Linked DNA regions of Homo sapiens. The protein of the gene in region 1 interacts with the protein of each later gene in a pairwise test. Each region holds a gene or a part of one and is shown on either strand. Other genes may lie near its edges. The genes, in order: PPP4R1 and SASH1.

Region 1 (3,818 bases):
CACCTGCATTTTCAAATGATGTCTTTGCTGAGTATGGAATGTGGGGCTGACAGTTTGTCTTTCAGTATATTAAAGATGCCACTCCATTGAGTTCTGGCTTGCCCACTTCTGACTCAAAACACACGCCTCCTCTTCTGCCATATAGTGCCGGGGTGTGAGTCCATCTAGTCAGGGTCAAGCTGGGTTTGCGTTTTGTGATTGCTGTGGTTACGTTCAGTGTACTTGGGGCTTCAGTTTTTCTCGCTGTGGGCTGCCACTACCATTGTCGTTTGCTGAGGGTGGCAGCTGGGGTACCAGTGGTCTTCTAGTGTGAGTATTCCACCCGGCGTTTAGCGGTACCTGCACCCCTGCGTAATGGGTGGGACCTCCTATCTGTGCTTGGTCTCGGGCAGGACTTCCTACAGCTCCTCCTGGAATAAGGAGCATTAGTTCTCCTCTCCCACAGTTGCAGTATTTTTGCTGGGCCCACAGGGTGGACAGGCTTTGGGGCCCCTCCACCAGCAGGTTAAGCCTTTTGCTTTGCACGAGAAAAGGGCCCAGCAGAGTGCTTGATGATTCATGGCTGTCAGTCAGTTGCTTCTGCCTGCTATGAGACATCTCTCCTGTTTTTCCTGACCATCTTTCTTGAAGCACCCATGGGAGGCAGGTACCCTGTGGAAGTCAGAAGGTTGTCTGGGAATGTGAGCTCCCTGTGTCGGGCACATCTGGCTTTGTTTGAGCCACCCCATGCTCCTGCCAGCCACCATCTGGCCCTGGGCAGCTGACTGCAATTCGAGCTGATTTCTCCCTGCCCTGTTAGGTGCTAGCAGGTGTCCTGTCCATCCGGGCTCTGCTGAGGGGCAGTTCTCTTTCCCATCTTGGGAAGTTAGGTTGTTTGTGTGCTTTGCAACCCCAGCTCTCTGATGGGCTCAAGAAAAGATCTTGAAGTTTATGTAGCTTTTTCTACTGTAGGGTCAGTGACGTTCTTTGCAGTTTTCTGTATTCTAAGCAGAAACTGGTCCTATTTGGAATTTTTATTTTGAATTTTGTCAGAAAATAAGTGTGTCTCTTTGAGGATGCATATTTGTATACACAGGTGCATTTATCATTGCTGCATAATCTATATTCATGTTACAGTTGACTTTCTGCTTATTAGAAATGTAAATCCTCTTGAACATAAAATCTGAAAGGCAAAAGTCTCACATCCAAGGTATTTCTTCAAGGCCATCATTGAAGCTTTCAGGTTAGCTTGGTAGATGTCATGAAAGTCTCAGGGCCCCTCAGATGTGATGGGAAGGTTGCTGGAGGACACCCTCCCTCTGTTATCCCTAGCAAATCCCTTCCAGGAAGGCTCCTCAGAGCCTCGACAGGTACACAGTGGACTCCCTCCCTCTGCGGGGACTTCTTACTGAGAAACTTGATTGTAGATGGAAGCTTCTCAGCACATTCCAAACTGTGACCATGGATCAGTGTGGGCCATGTTCCAGTTGAACATACTAGGAAGTGCTTTGCTCTGTCTCAGTCCCCATGGATGCAGAACTCTACAGCTTTTGTTTTCCTTACACTCTAAGGAACTTGAATAGCATGTAAGTGCATTTCCAGATACACAGAGACTGGAGGTAACTGTACAGGAGAGGTCTGCTTAATCACTCCTCTTTGCGTATGTTTGAGACAGGTGCTCAGTAATCCAGTATTACAGATGATTTAAATGGGTAACCTATTTTCATTTGTCTCGCTGATTTTTAAACATTGTCTTTTTGTAATTCCTTTTTGTAGACAGCTGATTTTACTTCTAGAGTTATATAGTCCCAGAGATGTTTATGACTATTTACGTCCCATTGCTCTGAATCTGTGTGCAGACAAAGTTTCTTCTGTTCGTTGGATTTCCTACAAGTTGGTATGTATTGAACTTTTAAAATTTTAGATCAGCAAACTCTAAGATCCTAGAATGGAAGCTGTTCCTCATTTCTCCATGCTCACCCTCCCAGGTCAGCGAGATGGTGAAGAAGCTGCACGCGGCAACACCACCAACGTTCGGAGTGGACCTCATCAATGAGCTTGTGGAGAACTTTGGCAGATGTCCCAAGTGGTCTGGTCGGCAAGCCTTTGTCTTTGTCTGCCAGGTAAGCGAGGCCCTGGGCTTACCTGTTTGTGAGTTTTTCTCCTAGAAGAATGTCTTCTTTAACTTCCTACCTCTCTCTCACCCTCTTCCTTACTCTTAAGGAACAGAACCTTATAGTAGCCTGGCTGTTTATAGGATCATCTGCCCCCATTGTTGGGCATCTGGTGGCCCCTCTCTCCCAGCTAGCCAAGCCCCTCCTTACACTGGCATGCACCACACACACCCCACGTGCCTGCTGTATGTGCTTGTTCCACACCACATGCCTGGTATGTGCGTGTTCTGCTCTGCACACATTCAGACGTGTGTATATGTACATTTCACAGTGCACATACATGCATGTTCCTCACTGTTCCTCACTGCATATTACACAGGCATACATACATGTACCCCACCACACACATACTGTGCACACATATACCATACCACGGTTCCCACTAGAGGGTGCTCATGTCTGGGACCCAGAGCGCAGGTGTGAAAATGAAACACCTGTGAATGAACACTCTAGGTCTCCGTAGAGCAGTTTAAAAACTGTGTCTGTCCGTGTGGGCAGTTAATTATGTAATTTTTGATTTGAGTTCCCAAGTACGTGGAATTTTGGTTAAAAAGCAATAACTAAAATTTGTACCTGTGGTCACTCAGAGATTTTGTTAGCCAGTAGTCGAGTTTTTGGCTACATTGACAGAGAAGCCTAGAGCAGCTGTTTCTCTTCCCCAGACTGTCATTGAGGATGACTGCCTTCCCATGGACCAGTTTGCTGTGCATCTCATGCCGCATCTGCTAACCTTAGCAAATGACAGGGTTCCTAACGTGCGAGTGCTGCTTGCAAAGACATTAAGACAAACTCTACTAGAAAAAGGTAGGTAGTGACTCCACTAGAAGAAGCGTGTGAGTAGAGAAGGAGGTCTGTGGACTGCACTGGATCAGCAGATATCAAAGCAGAAGTATTGTCTGCTCAGAGAAAATAATCTGGTGGAAGGAAATACTTTAGTTGTTCCGGTGATTCTCCCAAGAGGGCATGGAAGATGAAAGGGATTTTTTAATTAGCCCTCTACTGTTCTAGTTGGAGTTTATTTATCGGAAGCATGTATCATTTTTATCATTTAAAACTTAGGTTTTTTTGTTTGCTTGATATTTTGAGACGGAGTCTCGCCCTGTCACCCAGGCTGGAGTGCAATGGTGCGATCTCAGCTCACTGTAACCTCTGCCTTCCGGGTTCAAGCAATTCTTCTGCCTCAGCCTCCCCAGTAGCTGGGATTACAGGTGCCCGCCACCACGCCCAGCTAATTTTTTGTATTTTTAGTAGAGATGGGGTTTCACCATGTTGGCCAGGCCGGTCTCGAACTCCTGACCTCATGTGATCTGCCTGCCTCAGCCTCCCAAAGTGCTGGGATTACAGGCATGACCCACCGTGCCTGACCTAAAACTTAGTTTTTAAACTTGGGTGTTGTTTTTATGTACAAACCATTGCCTGGCAGCGTGCCACTTGCAATCTGCAGTATGGGGGCTGGTACCTACCTATGTTTGCTCTCCCTTCTGCTTTCTCTTCATTAGGCAAGAGACAGATGCCCCATAGTATTTGTTTTGTTGGAAATTATAATCTCTTCAAGATTAAAGGTGGTTTATTTATTTTAATCGACCCCCCCGCCGCCTGCCGCCCAAAACACCTCATAAATATAGTTGCACGGATGAATGAAGCACAGAAAGAAGTTTGTAGTAG
Region 2 (3,818 bases), on another chromosome or scaffold:
GGTGGAAGGGCACAGATCTCCCAGATCTGGGTGCTGATGTTGCTGGATAAGGTTTGTGGGCACCGGTGAAAGAGGCCATTGGGCATGGGACTACTTGCGTCTGTGTTTTGGAAAAGTAACTTTTTTATTTCATTCTTTCTTCTTTCTTTCTTTTTTTTTTTTTTTTTTTTTTTTTTTTTGAGTGAGTCAAACTCTGTTGCCCAGGCTGGAGTTACAGTGGCGCGATCTCGGCTCACTGCAACCCTCAACCTTCCAGGTTCAAGCAATTCTCCTGCCTCAGCCTCCCAAGTGGCTGGGATTACAGGCATCTGCCACCATGCCCGGCTAATTTTTGTATTTTTAGTAGAAATGGGTTTTCACCATATTGTCCAGGCTGGTCTTGAACTCCTGACCTAAGGTGATCTGCCTGCCTCGGCCTTCCAAAGTGCTGGGATTACAGGCGTGAGCCACGACGCCCGCCCGGCCAGAAAAGTAACTTTTGTAGGCGATGGGGTGGCAATGAGGTTGGAGGGAAGGAGACTACTTTAGTGACCCAGGCAGGGATAGTGAGAGCCCCAACCAGATGTTTCTGTGTCGAGTCATTACCTGTCCTCTGGCTGCCTGAGGCCCAACACTTTGTACAGTCTCTAAAGTAATCAAGACTGCTCCATGGTAACTTTCTTTTGATAATTCTTTTATGCTCAAGAGTGGGCTGAGTTAATGCAAGACATTTTAGAGATGTCGTATGCCTTGTGATTTTCTTTTTTTCTTTTTTTTTTTTTGAGACGGAGTCTCGCTCTGTCGCCCAGGCTGGAGTACAGTGGTGTGATCTCGACTCGCTGCAAGCTCCTCCTCCCGGGTTCATGTCATTCTCCTGCCTCAGCCTCCTGCGCAGCTGGGACTACAGGCGCCTGCCACCACGCCCGGCTAATTTTTTGTATTTTTAGTAGAGATGGGGTTTCACCGTGTTAGCCAGGATGGTCTCGATCTCCTGACCTCGTGATCCACTCACCTCGGCCTCCCAAAGTGTTGGTATTACAGGTGTGAGCCACCGCGCCCGGCAGATTTTCTTTCTCTCTAAAGGAAAAGGCGGCCAGGCACAGCGCCTCACACCTGTAATCCCACTGCTTTGGGAGGCCAAGGCTGGAGGATCGCTTGAGGCCAGGAGTTAGACCAGCCTGGGTAACATAGCGAGATCTCATCTGTAATTCTTATTAAAGAAAAAAGAAAAAAGTATCTATCCATGTATATATGTACAAATATTTGTATACCTGTCTCTCTATACTGATAGAATGTGGTTCCTTAAAAGGGGGAATTATTATTTATAACAATATGCACACCACTGAAAGATCTTTAAATCATTCTTTTAAAAGCTAATTGTAGAGTACAGTGAAATAGTGGGAAATATGTAGTTCAATGCAAATTTATTCATTTGCAAATCCGTAGCTCAATTTTACAAAGGATGTAAGAGGAAAAACTATTGTTTATCTAATGTGTCCTTTTTAAGAGTGCTGTGGTGCTACCTGATTGTTTCGTGTCTAAGACTTGACTGTCATAATCCCACTGTAATAGACGATGTGCCTACCTGTGGTTGACACACATTCTTGGCATTAGTAAAAATGAAATTGGTCTCAAAAGAGTGAATCTAAATGGACAGAGACTGACTCTCACTATCAGTGATACCATTTAATACCTGTGAGTACAGACTGAGACTACAAGAATTAACTAAACCTTCAGACTAATTTTGAGATAAAATGTATTTTTTGAGTACATAAATTGTCATTTTTCAAATGATATGCTCATCTATTTATTAATTCACTTTTGTAAGAAGACCTGAAAATGGTAGGTCTCTTCCTCATTAGCTTTGCTCCTAGCCAGATGTTGAACGTCCCTTCTTTTGTTCTCTGAAGTGTTTCACTGGGCAGCATTAATTCTTTATGAGGAGAGATGCTTCACAGAGATAACCTATCTTGTATCTTTCCTGCCATGTCAAGTCATGTAATACAGACATCTCCATCCTGGAGACTGGGTATCCAGGCATTATGGTAACTCTGAGACTCAGAAGACAAACGCTTGAGAAAGGGCTAGTATTTCCTTTCTGCGATAGTAGTTTTTTTTTTTTTTTTTTTTTTTCTGAAAGGCTCTTCTATGGCTTTCAAGATGATTGGTGAAAATGGAAATATATTTGTATTTATGTTTGTTTTTCAAGATGATTGGTGAAAACGGAAATATATTTGTATTTATGTTTGCTCTTCAGACTAATGTTCTCTGTGTTCACAGAGATACATTGCAGTTCTCCTTGGGTGTCTGATGCAAGTTCCATTCATGGTTGATTTTGATGTTTCATTCACTATTTGCTAGATTCCTTTTGCAGCAAGTAGTGAGTGAGGAAGTTTCCATGTGTCCACCCATCACTCTGCCTGGTTGTGGCTTCCTTCTTTCTCCTAGCATGAGGTAGTAAGAAAGAAAATAAAAGCATTATAAGAATCACATGATTTTTAAGTAAAGAGCCATTGAGGAGCAGAATAAAAAATCTTGGGATATGCCCTGAGCCCTAGTTACTCACCGCTTTTTTTTTTTTTTTTTTTAACTGCCCTTAATCTAGTAGGACCTAGTTTCCTTTAAAATGTATCCTAAGCACCCTTGACTTTGTTGACTTTAATAATAATTTTGTATTGGTCTTGCTGTCAGCCAACAATTGTTTTTAACCTAGAGCTAAAACATGTTTATGTGTGTGTGTGCTTTAAAAATTTAGTGTTTCAACATTAAATTATTTGTAGAGGAAAGGAATACTCTAGTTCAAGAATATGTATCTTTGCTATAGGAGTTTGTCTTTGTCTGTTTTCATAGGATTTTAAGGACCTCCTTTGTGAAATAAACCATTAACAACTTTGTAGCATTCCTTGTTTGGAAATGCCCAGTCTTTTAAAAAAAAAGTTTTGAAAGAGAAGAGTAACAACCTTAATCTGTGAGTTAAAACATTTAGAAACAAACAAACAAAAGTTAATTGAACATCTCTTAGAAAACTGATAGGTAGAATAGTAAAGTAGTTAAGAGCAAAGGAACTATTTTAGGTTGTTTGAGTTCAAATTGTGGCTTTAACCCTTACCGGACATGTGACCTGGGTGAGTTATTTAATTATTCTGTACCTCAGTTTCCTTATCTGTAAAATGAGGTTAACAGTCACCAACATCATTGGGTTCTCATGAGGATTATTTAAATAATGAGAACAAAGGCCAGGCTTGGTGGCTCACGCCTGTAATCCCAGCATTTTGGGAGGCCAAGGCGGTGGATCACCTAAAGTCAGGAGTTCAAGACCACCCTGGCCAACATAGTGAAACCCCATCTCTACCAAAAATACAAAAATTAGCCAGGCATAGTGGCAGGCGCCTGTAGTCCCAGCTACTTAAGAGGCTGAGGCAGGAGGATTGCTTGAACCCAGGAGGTGGAGGTTGCAGTGAGCCAAGATCACACCACCGTACTCCAGCCTGGGAGACAGAGTGAGACTCCTTCTTATAAATAAATAAATAAATAAATAAATAAATAAATAAATAAATAAATAGAACTGTGCATGACATACGATGAGCAGTTCATAAATGTGAGTTATTGGCTGGGTACGGTGGCTCATGCCTGTAATTCCAGCACTTTGGGAGGCCGAGGCAGGTGGATCACCTGTCAGGAGTTCAAGACCGGCCTGGCCAACATGGCGAAACCCCACCTCCACTAAAAATACAAAAATTAGCCAGGTGTGGTAGTGGGCACTTGTAATCCCAGCTACTGGGGAGGCTGAGGCAGGGAGAATTGCTTGAACCTGGGAGGTGGAGGTTGCAGTGAGCTGA

The links.
Region 2: the proteins of PPP4R1 (region 1) and SASH1 interact in a two-hybrid assay, tested with the Homo sapiens proteins (one large-scale study listed by BioGRID).

The regions. Positions count from the first base shown.
Region 1 is NC_000018.10:9,548,336-9,552,153, reverse strand, and holds part of PPP4R1 (serine/threonine-protein phosphatase 4 regulatory subunit 1), read left to right. Parts: intron 1-1,755; coding exon 1,756-1,876; intron 1,877-1,967; coding exon 1,968-2,102; intron 2,103-2,815; coding exon 2,816-2,957; intron 2,958-3,818. UniProt on the Homo sapiens protein: Regulatory subunit of serine/threonine-protein phosphatase 4. May play a role in regulation of cell division in renal glomeruli. The PPP4C-PPP4R1 PP4 complex may play a role in dephosphorylation and regulation of HDAC3.
Region 2 is NC_000006.12:148,349,103-148,352,920, forward strand, and holds part of SASH1 (SAM and SH3 domain-containing protein 1), read left to right. Parts: intron 1-3,818. UniProt on the Homo sapiens protein: Is a positive regulator of NF-kappa-B signaling downstream of TLR4 activation. It acts as a scaffold molecule to assemble a molecular complex that includes TRAF6, MAP3K7, CHUK and IKBKB, thereby facilitating NF-kappa-B signaling activation.